Linked DNA regions of Homo sapiens. The protein of the gene in region 6 purifies or fractionates together with the protein of the main gene of each other region. This does not show direct contact. Each region holds a gene or a part of one and is shown on either strand. Other genes may lie near its edges. The genes, in order: ACAD8, DDX54, POLR1B, AMOT, CREB3L2, PTPN21 and EIF2S3B.

Region 1 (3,500 bases), on a different chromosome or scaffold from region 6:
GCTTAGAGAAGACCTGGTGTTGGCCACAAGTCTCAGTAATGGAAGGCGTGTGGTCCCTTTTGCTTCTTTGATTAAAAATAAAGTAAAACTCATTGGAGATGATTGTGGGTATTTCAGCAACCCAAGAAGGACACTTAGGTACTGTAAGTAATTTGAAAAGTAAGATACTTCTAGGATTAAGAGCCGCCATGGCCAGGGCATGAACAGGAGACTTGTGATCATGTAACCGTAATTGGTAATAAGGGCTCAAGACCCATTCAGATTTTTTAGACCAGATGCTCAAAGCAGTCATCTCTCTCTAGTTTGTACTGTTATGGGGGGACTTTGTGAGAGAAGGCAGGTAATGAAATGACCCCTAAGTGTACCTCTTTCTCACAGCTCCTCGGGTTTCTGTATTTTCCTACAGGATCCTTCCTGATCCTCTGTAACTGTAAGGCATTATGCATTTTAGCATCCCCTTCTCTTTGGTAACACAGCAACCATTTCCTAGGCTTCTACTGTGTGTGAAGCCCATGCTAACTCCTGGGCAGGAAGACCTTCAGTAAAAGGCTTAGAAATGGAGTTTATCCTATCAACAAAAGAGAGCAAGGAAATGATGTAAAGGCAGTCTATTTTCAGAGCCAGAGAGGAACTGGGAGATTGTAGATAGTTTGTGGTTTTCAATTAGAGGCACTGAAATTGGGGGCAGTTGGTGTCACAATCCTAAAAGAAGTTGTGAGAAGTGTTTGTAGGTTAGTCAGGTAGAGTAGACATTAGTAGATTCTCTTAATAAGTTAGAAAATGTTTAGCTGAAACAGGTATCTTTCTGAGTGCTGACAGGCCTTTAAACCTGAACTTTTTCTTTTTCCTCATTTTAAGTTCTTGTGGGTCTAAGTCTTGGGTGCTGAAACCCATACCTCACAGGCTCCCGTCCCCAGGGAAGGCCGCCCTACCTGCTGGATTGTTGGGCAACCACGCAGTCCCTGATTTTTGCCAGGTGGGGTGGAACTCCCAGCCAACACGAGCTGTGATCTTCGAAGACTGTGCTGTCCCTGTGGCCAACAGAATTGGGAGCGAGGGGCAGGGCTTCCTCATTGCCGTGAGAGGACTGAACGGAGGGAGGATCAATATTGGTGAGATACGCAGGGGTGTGGCAGGGAGGTAGCGGTCCGGGACAGGCACTGCTGTTTTCCAGCTTGGTTGGAACGTCGGCGCTCTTCCCCTCTAGCTTCCTGCTCCCTGGGGGCTGCCCACGCCTCTGTCATCCTCACCCGAGACCACCTCAATGTCCGGAAGCAGTTTGGAGAGCCTCTGGCCAGTAACCAGGTAACCTCTGCCTTGCCTCCACATGGCTTTGCACTATTTGCAGCCCGGGACCTGCTCTAGGGCCCACATTTCCAGGAGAGAAGCCAGGAAATTCCTCTGTCAGTCCCACCACTGTCCTAGCCAGAGCTTGTGCTTTATTTCTGTCCATCTTTTCTTGGGATATCTTTAACGATATTAAAGTGTCGGGTGAGTGAAGTGGACTTAGCACTTAAAAGCAATAAATTTCCTCTATAGAAAAAGCAAGAGACTTTGAAGCTTTGGATCACTTAGAAAAGGCGCCTCCGAGATGTCTTACCGAGGCTCCTGCACCAGGTGCTGGTCTAAGCCCCTCAGTCTTGTCTGGTTCTCTGCTCCCTGTGCTGCAGTACTTGCAATTCACACTGGCTGATATGGCAACAAGGCTGGTGGCCGCGCGGCTGATGGTCCGCAATGCAGCAGTGGCTCTGCAGGAGGAGAGGAAGGATGCAGTGGCCTTGTGCTCCATGGCCAAGCTCTTTGCTACAGATGAATGCTTTGCCGTAAGTGATTCCTCTGGCTCTCCTGGGATGGACAGGGAACAGCTGCTAGGCCCAGGGGTCTTGAGAGACATGAGTCAGATTTGGAACCCAGCCCTCCTGGAATCCCACAAGGATCACCTTAAGCTTAAGGATATAAATGAACTCATGAGCGGCCTATGTGGGAGCTCTCATCGCTGGCTTTTAGGCCTGCTGCATGCCATTATACACTTCATTATGTCACTGTTGTTTGGTTGTGTTCTAGGCGAGAAACCACCTTTGGAAGGTTCACAGCAGCCCCAATTTAGCACTCTGCCATGTTTACATTGTCAGGCTGCATTGCCACTAGGGGGAACCATAGCTTTTTATCATCCCAGCCAGGGTGGCTGTGGGCAGCTTCTGCCTGGCAGGTAATAAGGGAGAGGGGCAGAGGGCTTTGAGTCGCCTGTCTGGGGGGAACTGACAAGTTTAGTAGGTGAACTTCCCTTGTCTCTAACCATACAGAATGTGGAGGCCCTCTTTGAGCTTGGCTGTTTGTGGTTCTTTCATGGGTTTATGGCGGGCTGCCAGATCGTGGGCTGGGGTAGGAAGGGAAGCTGCTTGCTCCACAGTCTTCCCAGAGTCCAAGACGTCTAGTCCCTGTCTCCCTGCAGATCTGCAACCAGGCCTTGCAGATGCACGGGGGCTACGGCTACCTGAAGGATTACGCTGTTCAGCAGTACGTGCGGGACTCCAGGGTCCACCAGATTCTAGAAGGTAAAAATTGCCAGAGGTTATTCTCTTCCCTTCAGAACGGGGGCGGGATCGCTGCTTTCCCCACTCTCTGTCCCCATGCCTCCTGGGCCTCAGGGTGCAGTCAAGCCCTGTCTGTCTCGAGGCTTCCTCCTCCCTCCCGTTCCGCAGAGCTGTTCTGGCAGGGGCCTGGAGTCCAGAGCCGCAGCTTCGTCCCTTTCGGGGGGCCTCAGATCGCTCTGCTGCTGCCCTTTTCCTCTGGAGATCTGCGAGAAGGGTGAACTGAGATAATGGATGAGAAAGCATGTTGAAAACCACAGCCGGGGCTTTTCTCTAAGGTTATCGAGTACGTGGTTCTCAGGGATCCAAGAACAGTGATGGACAAGGCAAATGTGAGCCAGTATGGTCATCAGTAGCTCTATATTGATTATCAGCCAGATGGCCTAAAAGATACCTGTCTCAATATTACTAGTGTATTTTTCAATAAAATAAACCATCACTATATGGGTATCTTCTTGGTAGTCACAGACATTCTATCGAGGAAACATGGAAGCCGTTGGGGTCGGGCTCGGAGCCTGGCTGTCTCCACTCTCTACAGCCAGTGCGGAAGTCTTGAAATGACACGACTCTTGGAAAAGCAGGAGGGGCAGAGGCTTCTTTGAGTGACTTCGGTGAAGCAACGTGAGGCTGCCTTGCTGGAAACATTATATAATGGGGCTTCCCTGCCCCTTTCACAGCACCCTTCTCAAACCTCAGCCTGTGCTGGAATCGCCTGGAGGGCATGGGAGCGCAGATTGCGGGCCTCAACCCCAGAGCTTCTGCTCCAGAGGGTCTAGTGTGGGCCTGGGAATTTGTATCTGCAACAAGTCTTCAAGTGAGGCTGCCACAGCTTGTCTGAGAACCACACTTTGAGACCCACCGCTCTGGTGTTAATGTCAGAGTCACAGGCTACCACAGGTTAGACCGCTG
Region 2 (3,500 bases), on a different chromosome or scaffold from region 6:
CATGGCTCACTGCAGCCTTGACCTCCTGGGCTCAAACGATCCTCCTATCTCAGCCTCCTGAGTAGCTGGGACTACAGGTGCATGCCACCACACCCAGCTATTTTTTTTTATTTTTTGTAGAGATGAGGTCATGTTGCCTAGGCTGCTCTCAGACCCCTGGGCTCAGGTGATCCTCTTGCCTCAGCCTCCCAAAGTGCTGAGATTACAGGCGTGAGCCACGGTGCCTGGCCTGGGTCTCTCTGTGTTTTTGTTTGGTTTTGTTTTTGAGATGGAGTCTCGCTCTGTTACCCAGGCTGGGGTGCAGTGGTGCAATCTCGGCTCACTGCAACCTCTGCCTTCTGGGTTCAAGTGATTCTCCTGCCTCAGCCTCCTAAGTAGCTGGGACTACAGGTGCCCACCACCACACCTAGCTAATTTTTGTATTTTTAGCAGAGATGGGGTTTCGCCGTGTTGGCCAGGCTAGTCTCGAACTCCTGACCTCAAGTGATCCACCCGCCTCAGCCTCCTCAAGTGCTGGGATTACAGGCATGAGCCACTGCGCCTGGTCTGGGTCTGTCTATCTAATTGTGAAGTGCAGATAATGGACACTGGGGAAGACTTGGGGAAGAACGCCCATAGGAAGCCCACCAAGTGGTAAGGGTGGGGTTAGGAGTAGGAGGCCAGTGGGCAAAGGACTGGGTGTCCCCTCCACAGACTATCTTTGAGATCAACGCCTCCAGCCGAGACCTGTGCAGCCAGGTGATGCGCGCCAAGCGGCAGAAGGACCGCAAGGCCATCGCCCGCTTCCAGCAGGGACAGCAGGGGCGGCAGGAGCAGCAGGAGGGCCCAGTGGGCCCAGCCCCGAGCCGCCCAGCACTGCAGGAGAAGCAGCCTGAGAAGGAGGAGGAGGAGGAGGCGGGAGAGAGTGTGGAGGTACAGGTTCCACCCTGGGGACCCTGGACCTGGGGTATGGGGAAGGGGTGGCTAAGTCCCAGCAGCCCATGAGGCTGTCCTAGGATCTTTGAGCAGTGGATGGAGGTGGATGCAGTCAGCTTCCCATCTGCAGAGTCGGGGCATGGTTCTTGTCCACCATCCCTCGTTTAAAACTCTGGGGCCAGATCTTTAGCCTGAGGAGCTGTGCACGACATGACACCCTCAGTGGGGTCCGGGGCATCACCAGCCACCAAACACATCAGGGCTTCTGCAGTGAGACGTGTAGGTCTCCACTCAGAGGGAGGACCATGAAGTGTCCCATTCACCTGGTGGGTGGGTCCTGGGCCTGTGCGTCCCCCAGGATGTCCCTCTCTCATGTTTTGTTTGGACAGAGGGTTCAGTAGCCAAGAAGACCAGTTGGAGACCCCTGGCCTAGTCCATGTTGTTCAGAGCAGGCCAGGCGCAGAGAGGGGCAGGGCCGGCTGTCACATAGCCTGGGGTGCGGAGCTGGAATGGGGAGTTGGGTCTCCCTCGGCCGGCACTCTCCTCCTCACCCAGCTGTCCTGCCTCTGCTGGTCCCTGAGGCAGGGGTTGCACTGTGTGTGCAGATGAGGAAACTGAGGGTCCCACAGGAGACACTGTCACCCAGCTAAGAAATGGCAAAATGAAGCTTTGAAAGTCCCCGAGAAGCCACTGGCCCCTCACTGTGGCCAGGCTGGTGGGTAGGGAGGCAGGGGGAAGTCCCCAGGGGGCAGCAGGCATGACACTGGGCCTTGGTCTGTGCTCTGCCAGGACATTTTCTCAGAGGTCGTGGGCCGGAAGCGGCAGCGGTCAGGACCCAACAGGGGAGCCAAGAGGCGGAGGGAGGAGGCCCGGCAGCGGGACCAGGAATTCTACATCCCCTACCGGCCCAAGGACTTTGACAGCGAGCGGGGGTGAGTGGCTGGCTGGGTCCTGGGTGGGGCAGTTGGGTCCGCTGGGTCCCATCAATCCAATTATGTCTCCCACTCTCCCTCTGCAGCCTGAGCATCAGCGGGGAAGGGGGAGCCTTTGAGCAGCAGGCAGCTGGCGCTGTCCTGGACTTGATGGGGGATGAAGCCCAGAACCTGACGAGGGGCCGGCAGCAGCTCAAGTGGTGAGTGATCGAGTGAGCCGCCCCTCCATGCTCGGGGTGAGTGACCGAGTGAGCTGCTCCTCCGTGCCTGGGGTGAGTGATCGAGTGAGCCGCCCCTCCCTCCATGCCCGGGGTGAGTGAGTGAGTGAGCCGCCCCTCCATGCCCGGGGTGAGTGATCGAGTGAGCTGCCCCTCCAGGCCCAGGGTGAGTGAGAGAGTGAGCTGCCCCTCCATGCCTGGGGTGAGTGAGCGAGTGAGCCTCCCCTACCTCCATTCCCTGAAGTGAGTGAGCGAGTGAGCCGCCCCTCCATTCCCTGGGGTGAGTGAGCGAGTGAGCCACCCCTCCAGGCCCAGGGTGAGTGATCGAGTGAGCTGCCCTCCATGCCAGCAGGCAGGGTGAGCTCCCTGAAGTCCTCACTCCCATCTGATCCTGCACAGCCCAGATTATGGCCTGGCTGTCCCCCATGTGACCACTCACAGCAGGTGTGATGGCCCCTGGCTGTGCTGTCCCCTTGATTTGATCACACACCACAGAGATCTTGACCCCGTCTATTCTTTTTGCTGGCAAGTCTTTCTAGACAGGGCTCAGGACCCATTCGTTCAGGACTCTAGCGTCTGGAGAGTGTATGTGACTCAACCCAGGGTCACAGCTGGGTAGGGGGAGGGGATTGGAAACCCTCCAGGAGGCCCTTGTCCCTGAGCCAGGCCCCAGTGCTGGCGGCAGTCCTCTGACCTCCGCACTCCCTTTTGAGACCTGGACTGCAGGGAGAGGTGAGGAGGGATAGGGAAGAAGCCTTTATTGAGCGCCAACTGCATGCCAGACATGGCTGCACTGCTTTCCTTTAATGCTCCAACAACCTGACAAGAGGGTCGGGTGAGGAGACAGGCCCCAAGCGGCAGCCGGCACTCCAAGGGTTTCCCTCCACGGCAGCCGTCCCAACTCCCTCTCCTGCAGGGACCGTAAGAAGAAGCGGTTTGTGGGACAGTCAGGACAGGAAGACAAGAAGAAGATTAAGACAGAGAGCGGCCGCTACATCAGCAGCTCCTACAAGCGAGACCTGTATCCTGAGGGGCGTGGCTGGGGAGGGGCGGGGCCGAGGAGCTTCAGCAGGAGCAGCTTCAATTAAGTGGAACCTGGGGGCGGGGGCGGGGGCGGGGAGGAGGGGGCGGGGCTGAGCGGCTTAAGCAGCCGCATCTCCAATAGATGGGACCTGGTGCTGGGGGCGGGGCCGAGCAGCTTCAGCAGCAGCATCTCGAACTAGTGGGACCTGTGCTGGGGGCGGGGCCCAGCAGCTTCAGCAGCAGCATCTCCAGTAAGTGGGGCCTGTGCTGGGGGCGGGCCCAGCAGCTTCAGCAGCGGCATCTCCAATAAGTGGGACCTGGTGCTGGGGGCGGGGCCGAGCAGCTTCAGCAACAGCATCTCCAATAAGTGGGACCTGTGTGCTGGGGGCGGGGCCGAGCAGCTTCAGCTGCG
Region 3 (3,500 bases), on a different chromosome or scaffold from region 6:
TTTTCTATGTTTATTAGTTGCTATTCTGTAAGGGAGGGCTTTCTTTTCTATTAGTTGTTCATTTATTTATGTTAGCGTAGATTTATAGATGCTTGTTTAATTTTGTGAATATTCTGTTACTACTTATTTTGATGCTCAGAAAGTGTATGAGATTTGATCTAGTGTACAGTTGAGGGTTTTAAGTACATTCATGTTGTGGAGTCATCACCATCTTCAGAACTTTCTCATCATCACAAATTGAAACTCTGTAACCATTAAACAATCATTCCTCTTTTTTTTTTTTTTTGAGGCAGAGTCTCGCTCTGTCGCCCAGGCTGCAGTGCAGTGGTGTGATCTTGGCTCACTGCAGCCTCCGCCTCCCATGTTCAAGCAATTCTCCTGCCTCGGTCTCCCAAGTAGCTGGGATTACAGGTGCACACCACCATGCCTGGGTAATTTTTATATTTTTAGTAGAGATGGGGTTTCTCCATGTTGCCCCGGCTGGTCTCGAACTCCTGACCTCAAATGAGCTACCTGCCTCATTAGTCTCAGATTTTATCTTTTTTATAGAGAATTTATTTTCATTCTCTTTTTTTTGGTTAGCATTGTGGAGCATCGGAGGATGAGGACACTTAAGATCTGCTCTCTTAGTAAATTTCAAGCATGCAATATAGTATTCTTAACTATAGTCACATGCTGTACATGAGATCTCCAGAAACTTAATTTTGTTGCATAACTGAAGCTTTATACTCTTTGACCAACATCTCCCCGTGTCCCCCTCCACCAAACATTCTCTCATTTTTAATGATAATGCATCTAGCTGTGAATCCCCATGAGTTCTGACACATGGGTTTGTTGTTGTTGTTGTTGTTGTTGTTGTTTTCAGGTTTCTGTAATTTAGGTTTTTATTTCTCCTTTCACCCAGGAGTTTGTTGGAGTTTTTTTGTTTTGTTTTTGAGACAGGGTCACTCTGTCACCCAGGCTGGAGTGCAGTGGCATGATCATGGCTCACTGCAGCCTCAACCTCCTGGGCTCAAGTGATCCTCCCACCTCAGCCTCCCGATTAGCTGGGACTACAGGCACGTACCACCACACTCAGGTAATTTTTTAATTTTTGTAGAGACGGGGTTTCATCATGTTGCCCAGGCTGGTCTTGAACCTCTGGGCTCAAGTGATCCACCCACTTTGGCCTCCTAAAGTGCTGGGATTACAGGTATAAGCCACCCCCGGCCCACCCATGAGTTTTTGGTTTATTAAATTTACAAATAAAACCAGTAATCTACTGTATTTTAGATCACAGAGGACAGAATTTCCTTTAGTGTATCGACACGTGCATTCATGGTGTGCTTTATCCTTAGCCTCAGTAGTTAGTGATTTGCCTACTAGCTGGGGTGAGCACCCAAGGAAGTAGGGCTTTTACCATGGCTGAGTGTGGATGAGTGGTATTCCATGGGGCATAAGACTGGCAGCGACAGCCATGGCCTTGGGACAGGTTTGTTAAACTCTGTTTTTGTTAAAAACAGGTGTTGAGAGAGAAAAGAATTCCTCCCTGGATGGAAGTGGTCCTTATACCCATGACAGGAAAACCAAGTCTGTACCCAGGATTGTTCCTTTTTACCACTCCTTGTAGACTGGTACGGCCTGTGCAGAACTTAGCATTGGGCAAAGAAGAGCTAATTGGAACTATGGAACAGGTAAATACATATGTGTGATGGATGAGTGTATGTGCTTGTTTGTATAGTATACAACTTTCAGAGACTTAACTCTTCCTTTTTTAAAAGGGTTGTTAATGTTACAACAACAGTTGGACATTTGAAAGAAAGTCAGACTTTCCACCTCCTCTATGATCAGCACAGAGCAATTTCCATGTCTGATCTCACTCCACAGAACCTGAGAGAGGGCTGGTGGTCACATTACCTGCCTCCCATCTTATCTAGCTCCCAGAACTCCTTTGTACCTGGCTCTGCCTCAGCCGTGAAGTGAAAACATTCCATTAGATTCACACTCAGTCTTTGCCTACATATTTACAGTTGCAAAATTATAGGCTTTGTGCTACTTAAAAATTTTTCTTCCTATTCCCCTTCACAATTGGTCTGGGGTAGTTTTAGAGTGAGATACGTAAAGCAAGTGGTATTTCTAACTGGTCGCTTCCCTGTGCTTCCCAGTTGATCCCTTCAGCACTCATGATGCTGGGTGGGGATGGTTTTCTCTTGAGTCTTTGAGTACTGAACTCTGAGAAATGGTAAGAGTAAATGTGTAACCAGTTGCAGTTATTTTGTGCCTTGGACATCTGCTCTTCCAGATCTTCATGAATGTCGCTATCTTTGAGGATGAAGTTTTTGCTGGAGTTACCACACACCAGGAACTCTTTCCACACAGCCTGCTGAGTGTGATTGCCAACTTCATCCCTTTCTCTGATCACAACCAGAGTCCACGGAACATGTACCAATGCCAGATGGGTAAGGAAGAGGGATGATGTTACAGTCACAATCAGGAAAGTAAACTTGATACTAGCACACTCTTTTATTGTCCTTATTTACATATGCTGACCATTTGTTCCAAAAATACAGTTTATGGCAAGTTTTTCTTTTTTCTGTGCCACAAGCAACCAGCCCAGGATCACTCATTGTATTTAGTTGGCATGTCTATTTAGTTTCCTGTAATTTATGACAGATCTTTAAACATTCTTTGTCTTTGACATTGACATTTTTGAAGAAAAAGGTATAGAATGTCCATAGATTTGGGTGTGCCTGAGGTCTTATTATTTGATTTTTTGAAGAATACAAGCAATTATAGTCACCCGCATATTTATCACTTCCAGTCCTCTTCATTCCTGCTGCAAGATTCAAGTTTTCATTGTATACAATTTTCCTTCAGCCTGATAATCTTCCTTTAGCATTTTTTTATAGTGCAGGTTGCTGGCCACAAATTCTCTTTGTTTTCATTTATCTGAAAATGTCTTTATTTTGCTTCACTTGAAGGAATCTTTCACTGGATATACAATTCTGAGTTGACAGTTATTTTTCTTCCAACACTTAAAAGTTGTTGTTACACTGTCTCTTCTTAGTCTCTGTCATTTCTAGTTAGAAGGCAGCAGTCTTCTGAATATAGTGTGTTTCTTTTTTTTTTTTTTTGAGACAGAGTCTCGCTCTGTCGCCTAGGCTGGAGTGCAGTGGTGTGATCTCGGCTTACTGCAACCTCTGTCTCCTGGGTTCAAGTGATTCTCCTGCTTCAGCCTTCCAAGTAGCTGGGTCTACAGGGACTCACCACCACACCCAGCTAATTTTTGTATTTTTAGTAGAGACGGGGTTTCACCATGTTGGCAAGGCTGGTCTCGAACTCCTGACCTCAGGTGACCTGCCCACTTTGGCCTCCCAAAGTGCTGTATTACAGGCGTGAGCCACTGCGCCCGGCCTCAAATTTTGTTTTTTTTCAGTTTAATTAAATTGCTAAACTCTTCTGTCATTATTTTTAAAAACATTGCTCCTATCCTTTTCTCTCTTTCCTCCTCTTCTATCAGT
Region 4 (3,500 bases), on a different chromosome or scaffold from region 6:
GGTACATTGTTTAATGTGGCTCTCCCATTTTTGTACCTAATTACCAGGTACAAAATGCTAACACCTAAGTATAAATAATTCATACCTAATGACTATTAGCCATTAAGGGAAACAATTAGTATGTGGATGGATCACTTCCACCATCACCACTACCAGGAATAGTATCTGTCAGTGTGCACTGAAGACAAAAAGCTTGTTCATGCCCTAGCTCATGCCCAATTAACCTCATATGCTCCCATGTCCTGTGGACACTTGTTCTACAGTTGATATTTCTCAATCCAGGGAAGACAGATGGCTAAGTGCATGGGATCTGGATCCCAACAGAGGGAGTCTGGAGACCTCTTCTACTGCTCACGAGCTGTGTAACTTGGTGCAAGTTACTTAATCTGCATGAGCCCATTTTATTCTTGAGGTCACAAATAAATTGCAAAAATACTGGGGTCTTCTCATTTTTGGCGGAATAGGAATTACAGTCACTTCTCTACCTCCCAGTGAGATAAGCTGACCTTGTTAGCTTGTTACTTAAAGGATATCCATTTAATCTTTGCAATAAATTGCATAAAATTCATGGTGGAACTGGGACAAATCACCAGGAGCAATTAACTTTTAACTGGCATTCCAGATGCTAAAGCACATTCCTCAGACACACACTCCAGTTACCATTACTGTTCATGTATCCATCTTTACAAGAGATCTTAACTATAAGGGCTTTTTACAGCTACAAAATCATTCCAAACACTTTCTCATGGATACCCAATAACCTACATCTTCCCCAAGAGTCCTCAAACCTGTACAAACCCTGGATTCTGTCGCTCAGGCCCATCTATGCCTCTGGTGTACCCACATTCTTCCAATCACATACATCTGTCATTATAAATAATTGCTGAATATTGAAGAGGGCATGCGAACTATTTGGGCAAAGAAGAATTGACATGGTACTCATAAGTACAACTGGAAAGTTGCTGCCATACATAATATTTTTCCCCAGAGCTCAAAGCACTCATTCAATCAAAAGCCTGGGAGTTATTTATACATTTATTTGGTGAAGAGCTCCTATTTTCCATTCTATGGATCTTCAGTTTCCTCACAGGTAAAAGACTAAGTGCTCTTTTTTCTCTTTGAATGAGAGCTATTACAATTTCTACATGCCTACAGAGTTAAAATATAATGTCCTGAGATTTGTTGGGGCTTGTGTGTCTCTTTTCTGCTTTGTGGGCAGAAAAGAGGGGCTTAAGTTTCATGTTCTCCAATGCAGCTCTCAAATTTTAAGGGAAAAAAATCACTATATTAACCTTCATTTTTGTTCCCAGGATTTGCAGTCCAAGGCCTGGGAGGTATTCTCTTTTAAAGACTGAACGCCCAGTTCTGAAATGGGCTTTCTCTCCACAGCTCCCCTGGGCCTCATCAAGCAACCCAGGCCTCTCTCTCAAACAAACTCAGCCACTGGCCTCCCTCCTGCCTGGAGACTGAAAGGCCCCTGCATTCCCTGGACAACAGCACATGGCCTTCCAGGGACCTTGGGAAGGAGGAGACCATGAGGTCTCCAGAAGGAGGTCTCTGGGGTCAGATAAGCTGAGGATGAAGATAAGCAGAGACAAGGCAGCTGCCCCTCAATTCCCCAGGCTGGAAAAGGAAGCAGATCTCAGTGCACCGTGATGTTGGGAAAACCAAGGCAGCCCGTCACTGGCTGGTTTGCAAACCAGCAATGGCTTGGGCAGTCACAAAGGGAGAGAAAGCCCTTCAGTGAAGAACTCAATCTGGGCTCCAGCATCCACCCACCAGGGGAAAGCAGGACGGAATGAACACTGGGGTGAAGCTCCCCGTGAGAAAAAGAGATTAAGGAATGACGGGGTAAGGGAGAGTTGGAGGGGGCGGATGTCAGAGGAAGCCAAAATACACCCCAAGTTAAATAATAACAGTAAAAGTAATGACAGTAATAATAAAGGTGGCAGCCATGTGAGCAGCACACTCTCCAGGTCCTTCCAGCACACAGCAGCCTGAATCGCTCCCCACTGACACGTTAACCAGGAACAACAAGCCGCCTGCAGACAACAGAATCACATGATTCCATGCAAGCCCTGACCTGCCTCCTGCCACTTCCGTCCCCTCATCCTGCTCCTTCCTAAGGCTACCTGGGCCACTGGGGCTCTGCAGAAAAGGGGACATAGCATACATGCAGGACAAAGGCCAGTGACTAAAATCAGGATCCTCCCCAAAGCTGGGAAGTGGGGTAGGGTGGGGGGTACACTCCTCCCAGAGACAGTAGTAAGGACTCAAAGGGAAAGTAAAAGCCACTCTACCCAGCTGACACAGCACCTTCCACCCTGCCACCTCGATGACTGGGAGCCCTCACCCTCCCCAGCCACACACACATGCACACATGTGCATGCACACACACACTCCACACTCCTGGCACACACATGTGCAATCCTGCACACACACTCTCACCAGAGCAGGTGCCACCCAATAGCCTGGAACTTGATTGATCCTCACCACAGAAACTGCCTTTCCCAGGCTCTGCAATGGTGAATCGGTGAATCTGTGAATCCTGGAGCAGGCTGCAAATTCCTGATGGTTTCTCTTGCACAACCAGCTCTGCTCTGAACTACAGAGTTAGGTCACCCTTAGATTCCACTAAACAAGGATTTCAAGAAACCTCAGATCTGGGCATGATTTCAACAATTGAAAGGAGGTGGCTGCTTTATAAACAGAAATGATTTAATTTTTAAAAGCAGTTGATAAATGTATAAACCCAGGATGCAGAAAAGGTTCAGCACTTAGAAAGACAAAGATTCTGAAATTTTAAAATTATTCAGATAGCCTTTGCCTTGTTTCTCATCTGGGGTTCTGGGCATTCAAGGTATTTATTTTTTAAGGGGAGGAGGGCATAAGAAAGATGAAGTAATAAAAGGATTGTTTATAATTTTGTTCATTTTAACAGCAAATCTCCAGCAGTTCACTGCACCTCGAAAAGCAAGCAAATGTTTTCTTAACAGCAATTTGTTCAAAGAGTTTGCTTTGCATCCTGACTTGTAATTTGTGGATTAAGGGCTCAGAATGTAGTCTTCTAATTGGTTGCTGCTAGCAGCAGTTACTTGGAAAGGTACTCACAAACTGTATAGCTAGTTGGTTAAAGGAAATAAAGGAGGGAAAATGTGTCACCACCTTAAAGCAGTACACTTCTGGAAAGCAGTTCAACTACCTCCTTTTGCCAGTAATTTGTCAATAGGTGCCACTCCCTCATGTAGGGCCCTGCAACAATTTTACGGCCAGTATTTGCCTGATGCAGACCCAAATTTCATATGGAGCATCCTCCCACTAGGGCCATTTTAGGTTTGCTTATTCATCAAGCATTATCAAGCACTCTGCTCCTTTCCCATAGAGAAAAACCTGTTACAGCAAAACTGTGTATTAAAATGCTGCTCAACAAGGGTAGATCATCATGGGCTCTGTTGCTTTTGAGGACAGAAAGAAAGAGAAATCCACAGATAACTTAGGTG
Region 5 (3,500 bases), on a different chromosome or scaffold from region 6:
ATAATAAAATAGAACAATTCTAACCATATCTTCTAATAAAAGTTACATGAATGTGGCCTCTCTCTCTCAAAATTTCTTATGGTGGTGTACTCAGCTATTTTCAGATAACTGCAGGTATTTTTATTGGCTGCAGGTAGTGTTTCTTACTATAGTGTATTCAGCTATTTTAAGGTAACTGCAGGTATGTTCATTGGCTACAGGTAACTGAAAGCTTAGAATACAAAACCTCAGATAAGGGGGGACTACTGTACTGCCTAACCCCATGCTCATTCCTATAGGTGTAGGTGTGAATTTGTGTGTGTATTCCTTACTCACCATCCCTTTATTTCTAGGTGAGAACACCATACGCTTCTTATCTGACACCGGAGTCCCCATATTCTCTAGATCTTGGGCATAAGGTTTTGGAAGGCAGGCTGATTCTTTTTGTTTGTTTGTTTGAGATGGAGTCTTGCTCTGCCGCCCAGGCTGGGGTGCAGTGGCACGATCTCGGCTCACTGCAACCTCCGCCTCCCAGGTTCACGCCACTCTCCTGCCTCAGCCTCCCAAGTAGCTGGGACTATAGGTGCATGCACCACCATGCCCAGCTAATTTTTGTATTTTTAGTAGAGACGGGGTTTCAGCATATTGGCCAGGCTGGTCTTGAACTCCTCACCTTGCTGATTCTTTTTTTTTTTTTTTTTGATGGAGTCTCGCTCTGTCGTCTAGGCTGGAGTGCAGTGGTGCGATCTCGGCTCACTGCAAACTCCGCCTCCCAGGTTCACAATATTCTCCTGCCTCAGCCTCCCCAGTAGCTGGGACTACAGGTACCTGCCACCACGCCCGGCTAATTTTTTTGTATTTTTTAGTGGCGATGGGGTTTCACAGTGTTAGCCAGGATAGTCTCAATCTCCTGACCTCGTGATCTGCCCGCCTCGGCCTCCCAAAGTGCTGGGGTTACAGGCGTGAGCCACCACGCCCGGCCCTGACCTTGCTGTTTATTTAATTTCACTTTACAAGCCCTTACTATATACATTGCATTACATTACTCATACAATTCCACTCAGTGGAGGCAGAAACACAGCAGTTCTCTTAAAACGTCACAGAAAGCGACAGACTCTTTCCCTCATCTGCTTCCCTCTCCCTTATCAGAACTCAAAAATTAGATGTCAGAATGGATCAGGGAACACAGTCTAGAACAGCAGTTTGCAAACTGTGCTCTGTCAAGCTCTGGAGAATTCCCAGTGATGCCGCAGTCCAGTGGATGAGGGGCCCCAGGGGAACCCCCACTTGCCTCTTCAAAGGGAGAAGCTCCACTTTTACCACTTTTTAAACATTGGACTTTCACAGAAGATTCCTTTTGGAAGACTGAGAAACCCAGCTCTAGGGAAATAAAACAAGACCCTGCCCAACTTGCCACATGCTGTCTTACCCACGGAGGCTGTGTAGGGCTCCTGCAGGGAATGCTGGCTGGGCAGAGCCATCTTGGTGGCAGAAGGATAGGGCCCGTAGCCTTGAAAGAAGCTGCCGAATGCAACGGCAAAGCACAGCACCACAACCTGTGGGAGAGAAAGAGGGGAGAGAGAACACGAGGGGCTGTGGACTTCAGCCTCTGGACAGCACAGCTTTATACCCAGGGACACAGACTCTCCTCTTCAGGCCAGTGGACTGCACCCACCAGTCACATCACCAGAGTGCCTCACCGAGGAACAGCCTCAGAGTGGAGTTCCTCCATGTGGTTTCTCCTACAGCACAGCACTTGGCCTTGGCAAGTGGAGGGAGAGGGGAGACAGGGGCCAGGCCAGGGGCGGTCACTGTGCTACCCTGCTGGGAAGCTCACCATGAGGCAGGTGCCAGTCTGCGTGCCAGCTAACTTGCAGGTTCGAGAAACCTTGCCCATCACCAAAGTCTGAAGCTTCTGGAGTTGCTGAAGGAGAGTCCTGCCAATGATAACAACAGCCGTGAGGGGAGTCTGACAGAGAAGAGATGCTTTTTGATCTCTCCATGTGACCCAAGAAGGCCGCCGTGCCTTTGTGCCTGCATTTCAACAGAGCCCCAAGGGACAGTTTCCTCTGGAAGAAGATACGAACACCAGTACCTTCTAGCACCATTGTCACAGAGCTCACTGGGGCTCAGAATCAGCCTTCACACTTGAAAGTCCTGTTCTTGCACTGCCCTGAGTTAGAGGTAACTGCCTCCACATTACCCCTGACAGGCTGTGGCTTGTTTCTCAGCGATTGAGAACAAAGGAAAAGGAACACTCTGATTGGATGGTGGCTAAAGTCAGAATGGTTGTGTCTCTCCTAAATTCCTATGCTAAAACCCAGTCCTCTATGTGACGGTATTAGGATGCAGCACCTTTGGGAGATGATTAAGTCATAAATGGAGCCCTCATTGATGGGATTCGTGCCCTTATAAGGAGCTGAAAAGACTAGAGTGCTTCCCTTCCACTATGAGAGGACACAGCAAGAAGCTGCTTTTTGTGAACCAGAAAGCAGGCCCTCGCCCAACACGGAATCTCCCAACACTTTTATCTTGGACTTCCCAGCCTCCAGAACTGTAAGAGATCAATTTCTGTTGTTTGTAAGTGACCTCGTTTATTACATTTTGTTATAGCAACCTGAACAGACTAAGAAAATGTCGATTAAAAGAAGAACTCATTTAAGCAAGAGATGAGAAACATTGACAAAAACATAAAAAAGGGACAAAGGCAAAGAGAAGGAAAAATAAAAAATGACCAGCAGAGAACAACAGAAGGAGTGGCCAGAGGTGGGGGCTGTGACTGGAAATGCCAACAGAGAGTAACAGGCATTCACAGGCAGGTTAGAAGAGAGAGAGAAAGGCCAGAGGTGGGGGCTGTGACTGGAAATGCCAACACAGAGTAACAGGCATTCACAGGCAGGTTAGAAGAGAGAGAGAGAAAGGAGAGGAAAAACAAGAACGGCTCTGTTTAAGGCAGAGAGGCAAACAGCCACCTGCAGCTCAAGCCTGTGGTTCTTAAACGCTCACAGCACCTCCAGAGTCAGGAAACGAAGCCAACATATGAAAGAACAAAGATGCCTGCTCAACTGGACCCTCAAGCCCAGAGTCAAGGGTCTTTAAAACCATCCTTTGAAACAGATTCTAGCCTTTCTCCAGGAAAAAGACAAGAGAGCAAGAGCAGAAAAAAAAAAAGGAGACGTTTTATCCCTAAAATTGGACAACTGTGCCTCTCCTTAAAAGGCAAAGTTTGAGGGATAAGAACAGTCTTATATACTCTGCTCTGTGTGACATCAGCACACAGAGCAGATGGTAAAATTCTTTGCAAATTCTGAACACTGCAAGGCATAGAAAAGGATCTGACAACACACCCTCCTGAGTTAGAGCACCCGGGAAGAGTTCCCTGTGAGTGGTGTAAAGAGTTGAAGCTCCTCCTCATCCTCATCCCCCACCCCCAAACCCAGTGCATATGGCAAAGTGGAAAGATTTTATGAGCAGATGCTTTCTCTTGGGTCTCAAGGATTCTCGGAAAATGTGTGCTGTGA
Region 6 (3,500 bases):
GATATCTGAAAAAAGCATCCAGGAAAGTGTACCCAATCCTAATATAATTCTCCAGGTTGGAGTGTGTGTGGATACAGCTTACATATCTTGGCCGTGATTCTCCAGAGTGATTCTGGAGTTGGGAAGGTGGCACTTTGTTAAGGCAAATCCTGAGACGTCCAGGTTTCTTAAATTTAAAAGAAAGATGAATTCAGCTGAGAATCTAAGGAAAGTCCCCGGTAGAAGATGCAGTTCTTTAATATTCAGCCTAATAAATAAATATGAATTAAGCACTTTTTACCTACTTTGAAGCAAAATATAAAAAAGCATAGTAGCATCATCTCTAGCTACCATCCTTGGAGCATTTGCCATGGGCCAAGCATTTCCTCTACTTTTGTGGCCTATTTACAGTAAGCCTATTGTTATGCCTGTTTTACAGATGAAGAAACAGACTTAGATATTAACTAACTTTTCCAAGGTCACATGACTAGTGAGTGACTGAACTGGAATTTTAAACCCATACTTAGAAGCCCATTCTGTTATCATCTACACTGTAGATGTATGTTCTGCATTGAAGTATACTGTATATGTTCTATTAAGTCATAATTGCTTGTTGAAGCCTTGCTAGTCTTTCACTGAAACTTTTAAACTCAGTCCTTAACCTGGGACTAAGCATCTGCGGCCTTGTCATGAAGTGTGTCCACCGAAGTGATTTTGTTGCAGTGCTCAGGCTTCCAGCTCTTCCTGGCCCACATCTCCACTCCTCATGCCCTGCACTTGAGCCAGGCTAACTTGATTAGGGCCTCCATCCTATCTCCTGTTGGCTTCCAGTGTCCTGGCAACTAGGGTTCTCCTCCCCCCATCGCTGCTAAACTGCAAACTCCGACAGGACGGCTCATCTCAAGTGTGGTTCTGGCCTAGTGTATGACATCCTTTAAGATGCTGCAAACATCTTGCTAAACAGGAAAAAACGCACACTATTATAGTACTTATGAAAGAGATTAATGTACATAGACAAAAACTACTTAACAAAAAAAGTACCACAGATTTAAATTTGCTTTTTTTTTTTTTTTTTTTTTTTTAGAACAGTCTTGCCCTGTTGCCCAGGCTGGAGTGCAGTGGTGTGATCTCAGTTCACTGCAACCTCTGCCTCCTGGGTTCAAGCGATTCCCCTGCCTTGTGATCTGGCTGCCTCAGCCTCCCAAAGTGCTGGGATTACAGGTGTGAGCCACCACACCTGGCCTAAATTTGCTTTCTTTTAATAAGTTTTGGGTTTGAATTTTAAGTTGATTTTTAAATTTTTCACAAGTATGCAACATAACTCACATCCCTGAACAGTAAAGGCCAATGCCTTCAGTGGACACAGATTTAAGAGTGTAGGGAGCAGTGATTCAGGATAAGGTGTGGGTAGATTTTCCAAAGTAACTCTACCTGAATCCCTGAGCCAGCTGGACAGGGTCCTTTTATAGTTAACACCCTTCCCATTGCATTAAGAACGGTCTGTTTTTATGTGTGACTCACGTACTTTCCCCAAATGCTATCTGAGTACAGCTCAGTACTCAGGCCTATTTTATCCCTGTATGTTTTGAATGGGGTCTGGTAGGTTCAGTTAAATCTGAGGACTTTGATCAATTTGGTTCTCTTAAAAGAACTTTTCTCTCCCATTGACTTTTAAGACCACAATACTAGTAAAATTATGTGATTGGATTATGTTTTTGGTCCTTTTTGCTTAAAGGATTCTACTTAAGGAATGGGTATGGCAGCTGTGGTCACGAGGAAAGAGCAAAGGTCCTACAAGTTAAGAACGTTGGGGCTGAGTCTAGAGCCTGCCATTTGTTAGTTCTCTGTGACCACGGTCAGGACCCTTCATGCGTCAGAACCTCAGCTTCCACATCAGATAACCTCAGATCATGAGGACGGTCATCCCTTCGCTGCCTGCTTCGTGGCATTATGTCCCACATGCAGTTAGGCATGAAAAAATGCCTCCTGAATTACATGATTCAGTGTAACTGATTTTAACCAAAGATTTGCTTTTATTTGTTTTGACACTGATTACCTTGTAAAAGAGGCAGCCATGTGACCTCAGACAAGCTATTTAATCTGTGACTCAGTTTTTACATTTGTAAATGAGAGGACCCCAGAGAGTTGTTGGGGGGATAAAAATGAGGTTCTGGCACATTGAAAGAGATTAGTCAATATTAACATTACTGTGAGGTGGCATCATATATTTAACTTAATGGCTTTCAAGAGTGGAAGAGGCCAATTCCCTATTGTACCCTCTGACCTTTCATAGTAACATGGGGTTGCCATTATCTTAATCGTTACAACAAATTTCCTAATGTGAATTAAGGTTATGGAGGTTTAGTATTAAAAACAGTGAAATAAACTGTAGACAAGTAGGAATGATTTTAGAATTCTCCACCCATCTCCACCTCCAGCAACCTGATTGTTATCTTAAAGGCAGACTGGTTTGGGTGCTCATATATCTACATAAAGATTTTCTTTTTGTTGTACCCTTTAGTGCAGTGGTTCTCACATAAGAAATCACTGTGCAGGGTATGCATTAAAATCCTGTGCTTATATTCTAAGGGCTAATTAAGGCATATTCAAGGCTAGTTTTGACTACATACAACATTCTTCCAATACTGGCTTTTGAACTGACCTCACAGCCAATCAGCTTTATCCAGCGTGTCCCAGTGTGGGATATTTTGAGTCATTTTCAGGCAGAGAAGTGCCAGAGCTAGTTCATATTGACTAGCAAGAGCCGACTTAAATGTTCAGGAACCTTGTGAGCCAATTGATGTGACATTAACAGTTTGAAATTGGCTGTGATGGGAGTATTTACACCATGGATATGGGCAAACACCGATCAAAACTTCCTTCCAAGAGCCTGTTGTTAAATATTACCAGCACATCACTGTTTTCTGCACGTTAGAATCATTAAATTTCAGCCTAAGCAGGAAGTGTTTAGTCTGTATGCCTGTGTCTGGATATATCTGTCTCTTTCTGTCTAGGTGAGGCTTACAGAGGAAAGGTGACTTGCCTGAAAGAAGTTGGTCAGTTAGAGGCCAGATGTGAACCCAGGCCTCTGCTGTTTATAGTCTAGACTGCATTATGTGGGGAGCTCATGATCAAATATTAATTATAAAATTAAAAATTAATCCACTTAGCTTATTGAGTTAGGTACCAATCACAGTCTCCAATTACAGCAGCAATCTTTTAGGATTTTTTTCCTCTCTCACCAAGTTGCCTTTTCCCTCTGTTCTTGCACCATTATCATGGGGCTTCATGGCCTGTTACAGGCTGAGAGAGCTGGAATAACACGGATTTTGTTTACAGGGCAGAACCATTATTTTCCAGTTGGGGCTACTCATTATATTGATATCATCCAAGGAAGTGTAGTATATCCAACGAAACTTAGTGTTCTTTTTTTTTTTGGAGACGGAGTCTCACTCTGCCTCCAGGCTGGAGTGCAGTGGCACGATCTCAGCTCACTGTAATCTCCACCTCCCAGGTTCAAG
Region 7 (4,126 bases), on a different chromosome or scaffold from region 6:
TATTTTAATGTTATATATGGAGATTAATATTACTTTAGGTCAGCAGGAGAACCCAGGGATGTATAATCACAATGCCGTCTTCAGGGCTGGTTAAAGTTTGAATTACTTTATCAGAAGAACATGATAGAAAATATATTTTCTTTTTTTTTTTTTTTTTTTTTTTTGCTTTCTAACATCTTTTACTTATTGACCTTTTGAAACATCCAAAAATTAGTAATATTATAATCTGTGTCACAATCATATAACAGTTAAGAAAAAACATAAAATGAAGGCCTAGAAGGATCTTTGTTACTCATCTAGAATTATTTGGTATAACAGTATTTTCCAATGGAGGAAGACTATTGGATTTCAGGCATAAAACAATGCAGAAAAACATCTCAAGGCATCACAGGGAGAGGGAGATAACTTCTGACTCTAGTTTCCCGTATTTCAGGCCAGGAAGAGCAAGGGGAGAAAATTATTTGCCCATGGGAACAAGTAATCATGCTCTAAAGGACAATTTCATTCGAACCCATTCGTGCATCCTTTTCATGCAATTCGAACCCATTCATTGCATCCTTTTCATGCAAAATTTCAAAGATAAAGCAACATAAAATATGGGGCCAAAGAAAAGGGAGAAGGTCTTCAAGGATAATTTGTGCCTTTAAGTTTTTACTGGTACAACAGTCCTTCAGCCTGGAGGTACTCAAAGACGAATCATGAAAAACAAAAAAAAACTTTATTTCGAACAGTTTCAGTGATATATGTGTGTGCTACAGCAAAGGCTGGTTGTGGCAAAGTTTCATTTCAAACTGCATGATGTGGGCTAGGCAAGGTGGCTCACGCCTGTAATCCCGGCACTTTGTGAGGCCGAGGTGGGCTGATCACCCTGAGGTCAGGAGAGACTGGCCTGGCCAACATGCCGAAACCCCGTCTCTACTAATACAAAAATTAGCCCCGTGTGGTGGCACACACCTGTAATCTCAGCTACTTGGGGGGCTGAGGCAGGAGAATCGCTTGAACCTGGGAGGCAGAGATTGCAGATCATGCCACTACATGCCAGCCTAGGTGACAAAGCCAGACTCAAAAACAAAACAAAATAAAACAAACAAAAAAACTGCATAATGTATAATTTTGACATTATGTGGGAATGCTTAACTTCTGCCAAAATGTAGATTCAATCCAACATTATGCCAATTTTTATACTAATTGTAGTCCCTAAGTTTTCATAACCAAAAAAAAAAAGAGAGAATAACCTTACCGTTACCTACTAAGGTAACAAACTGTGAAATCAATTCCCCAATATCGCTTTGAAAATAAACCCCTTGGTTGTTAAAGAGAAATTGCAACTTCCAGCTCCATCCGAATGTATTATTTAACCGGTATTCTTCAGTCATCATCTACTGTTGGCTTGATTGTCACTCCTCTTCTTATCTGACCCCAACCAATTAAACGCCAGTGTTTTTCAACTCTTCGGCTAAGGGCAATTTTTTCTCCTACCTCTGTGCACACTGGATTGGTCAAAACAATTTTGCCCAAATCGGCCTTGACAGCACTAACTCTCCCTCCTGTCGACAGGGATCCTATGTTCACCATGAGCACTTCATTCTTAGACAGCTTTTGAACCTTTGCTGCTTTCTTGTCTCCTTCAGTGCGTACACCTAGAAGCCGTCTAAGCAGGAAATAGGAAATTTCCAATTCTGTGAATATCTCAGGTAAAGCTCCGACTGCACCAAGTATTTGCCCCACCATTCTGTCAGCCCGGCACAAAGTGGGGTCAATTTTTGTTCCAACTCCAATAAGACCGCCTGGAGCAGCATATTGCAGATCATTATGCTCCGCAAAAAGTGAAACAATTTTGGAAAAGATTGATTTACACATGAGTTTTCCTTCACTATCTTTGGAAACAATACCAGGTCTTACTTCTGTCTCCTGGCCCACCTTTAATACTCCTTTTAGGATACTACCACCAGCTACACCTCCCTTAAGGTCATCAACTTCACAGCCAGGTTTGTTGACATCAAAAGATCTAATAACAATAAGCCGGGGCTCTGAAGTAAAGTCTCTTGGGGGTACTGGAATTTTCTTTACTATGTACTCACAAACAACTTCAATATTGTATTTCAGCTGAGCCGAAATTGGAATAATGGGAGCTCCCTCTGCTACTGTACCTTGGACAAACGCAAGGATCTGCTCGTATTGTTCTTTAGCCTGCCTTTCTTTTACCAAATCAATTTTATTTTGTAGAATCAAAATATGCTTCAGTTTCATGATCTCTATAGCAGCCAGGTGTTCAGATGTCTGAGGCTGAGGGCAAGATTCATTACCAGCTATCAACAGAAGAGCTGCATCCATCACTGCTGCACCGTTCAGCATAGTAGCCATCAAAATATCGTGGCCAGGACAGTCAACAAAGGAAACATGTCTGACTAATCTGAAGTTCCCTTTGGTTCCTGGAATGTCTGTAGGAAACTCATCAGGCATACTGCTCCCACAAGATCGATAACATTCTGGCCGAGGGCAACTTGGGTCATCAAGTTGATAAATCTTAGCATTAGCATATCCAAGCTTGATTGTAATATTTCTTTCTAGTTCATTTTTGAACCTGACGGTGTGAACTCCAGAAATAGCTTTGACGACTGTGGATTTCCCATGAGCTACATGACCAATTGTACCTATATTAATTGTGGCTTGTCTGCTGATAACTTCGTGTGAAAGTGGCGTCAACTTGGTAACATCCAAGGTGGTGAGATCCTGACGCGAAAGGTGCGGCTGCCCCAGAGTCACCCCAGCTTCTCCGCCCGCCATGTTGCCAAAAGAGGAAGAAAGTCACCCCGGCTGCCGCCTGATCGTCTGCAGGGGTCCTAGTGCGGGGCGGGGATGCGGAGGCCGGAAGGTCGACTAGGGTCTCAGGATGGCCGGTGCAGCAGCGGCCTCAGTGCTTGGACTTCTCTCTGCTTGAATCTGCACAGTGCCTGTCGGTAGGCTTACTGGAAAACACGGTGCAAAGTTGCTGGAGCTATTCGTCGCAGACTTGGTAGATATTTGTGCAGGCAATACTGAGGGCAGCCACCCAAACCCCCGCCCCCTGGGCCCATGCGAGGCGGGTCGAAAATATATTTTCAGTTGACCACAGATAAATACTTAAAAAATTAATGGACCATTGTAATCTATTTATATGAAAATGGATCTTGTATATACAGCCTGCTATTACATTTCTAAGAAGACACAAAACCAGCAACACACTGAATAATTCTACACTAAATATTTTTCTTCTTTAAGAAGATTAATTATTAATATATTTATTTTTTGTTCGAAACAAATAGCTATGTCGTGGTTTATATTATAATTTTCATTTCTTCAAATTATGTTGGAGTGATGACCATTAATAGATGCTATATTGGAGATTTATTACAATAGCTTTATTGAGGTATAGTTTATATACAAAAAAACTGTGCATTTTTAACGTATACAATTTGATGAGTTTGGACATATGCATACATTCGTAATACCATCACCCAATGAAGATAGTAGGCATGTTTATCATCTACAAAGTTTTTCTTGAGTACCTTTATTTTGGGAGCAGAGGGCAAGTAAGACACTTGACATGAGATCTACCCTCCTAGCAGATTTTAAAGTGATCAACGTATTGTTGCTAACTATACGTACTATGTGGTACAGTATATCTCTAGAACTTATTCGTCTTTCGTAACTGAAACTTAACCAATTGAAAGTGAGTCCCTGGTAACCACCATTCTCTGTTCCTATGAATTTGACTACTTTAGATAACTCATATAGTATAATCATAAAGCATTTGTTCTTCTGTGACTGGCTTATTTTATTTAGCTTAATGTCCTCAAGGGTCATTCATGTTGTCATGAATGGCAGAATATTCTTTCTTTAAGGCTGAAGAATATTCCATCATATGTACATACTACATTTTCTTTATCTGTTCATCTGTCAGTGTACATTTAGGTTGTTTAAATATTATTTATTCTTGATAATCCTACCATTGATGTGGGAGTGCAGATATCTCTTCAAGATACTAATTTTAATTCTTTTGGATATACTGTATACCCAGAAGTGATATTATTGGGTTATATGGGTAGTTTTACTCTTAATTTTTGAGGAAGCTCTATACACCTTT

What was found.
Region 1: the proteins of PTPN21 (region 6) and ACAD8 purify together in Homo sapiens (affinity purification with mass spectrometry, with the first as the bait; one large-scale study listed by BioGRID). This does not show direct contact.
Region 2: the proteins of PTPN21 (region 6) and DDX54 purify together in Homo sapiens (affinity purification with mass spectrometry, with the first as the bait; one large-scale study listed by BioGRID). This does not show direct contact.
Region 3: the proteins of PTPN21 (region 6) and POLR1B purify together in Homo sapiens (affinity purification with mass spectrometry, with the first as the bait; one large-scale study listed by BioGRID). This does not show direct contact.
Region 4: the proteins of PTPN21 (region 6) and AMOT purify together in Homo sapiens (affinity purification with mass spectrometry, with the first as the bait; one large-scale study listed by BioGRID). This does not show direct contact.
Region 5: the proteins of PTPN21 (region 6) and CREB3L2 purify together in Homo sapiens (co-immunoprecipitation; one large-scale study listed by IntAct). This does not show direct contact.
Region 7: the proteins of PTPN21 (region 6) and EIF2S3B purify together in Homo sapiens (affinity purification with mass spectrometry, with the first as the bait; one large-scale study listed by BioGRID). This does not show direct contact.

What each region holds. Positions count from the first base shown.
Region 1 is NC_000011.10:134,260,068-134,263,567, forward strand, and holds part of ACAD8 (isobutyryl-CoA dehydrogenase, mitochondrial), read left to right. Parts: coding exon of another isoform or gene 1-6; exon of another isoform or gene 7-97; intron 98-976; coding exon 977-1,112; intron 1,113-1,207; coding exon 1,208-1,305; intron 1,306-1,670; coding exon 1,671-1,823; intron 1,824-2,064; exon of another isoform or gene 2,065-2,209; intron 2,210-2,452; coding exon 2,453-2,555; intron 2,556-2,702; coding exon of another isoform or gene 2,703-2,812; exon of another isoform or gene 2,813-3,033; intron 3,034-3,268; coding exon of another isoform or gene 3,269-3,429; exon of another isoform or gene 3,430-3,500.
Region 2 is NC_000012.12:113,161,479-113,164,978, reverse strand, and holds part of DDX54 (ATP-dependent RNA helicase DDX54), read left to right. Parts: intron 1-693; coding exon 694-912; intron 913-1,704; coding exon 1,705-1,847; intron 1,848-1,933; coding exon 1,934-2,047; intron 2,048-2,981; coding exon 2,982-3,086; intron 3,087-3,500.
Region 3 is NC_000002.12:112,566,465-112,569,964, forward strand, and holds part of POLR1B (DNA-directed RNA polymerase I subunit RPA2), read left to right. Parts: intron 1-293; coding exon of another isoform or gene 294-431; intron 432-1,502; coding exon 1,503-1,673; intron 1,674-2,281; coding exon 2,282-2,438; intron 2,439-3,500. UniProt on the Homo sapiens protein: Catalytic core component of RNA polymerase I (Pol I), a DNA-dependent RNA polymerase which synthesizes ribosomal RNA precursors using the four ribonucleoside triphosphates as substrates.
Region 4 is NC_000023.11:112,816,832-112,820,331, forward strand, and holds part of AMOT (angiomotin), read right to left. Parts: intron 2,608-3,500; exon of another isoform or gene 2,494-2,607; intron 1-2,493.
Region 5 is NC_000007.14:137,883,587-137,887,086, forward strand, and holds part of CREB3L2 (cyclic AMP-responsive element-binding protein 3-like protein 2), read right to left. Parts: intron 1,917-3,500; coding exon 1,817-1,916; intron 1,536-1,816; coding exon 1,409-1,535; intron 1-1,408. UniProt on the Homo sapiens protein: Transcription factor involved in unfolded protein response (UPR).
Region 6 is NC_000014.9:88,475,008-88,478,507, reverse strand, and holds part of PTPN21 (tyrosine-protein phosphatase non-receptor type 21), read left to right. Parts: intron 1-3,500.
Region 7 is NC_000012.12:10,504,564-10,508,689, reverse strand, and holds EIF2S3B (eukaryotic translation initiation factor 2 subunit 3B), read right to left. Parts: upstream 2,801-4,126; 5' UTR 2,788-2,800; coding exon 1,369-2,787; 3' UTR 165-1,368; downstream 1-164. UniProt on the Homo sapiens protein: Member of the eIF2 complex that functions in the early steps of protein synthesis by forming a ternary complex with GTP and initiator tRNA.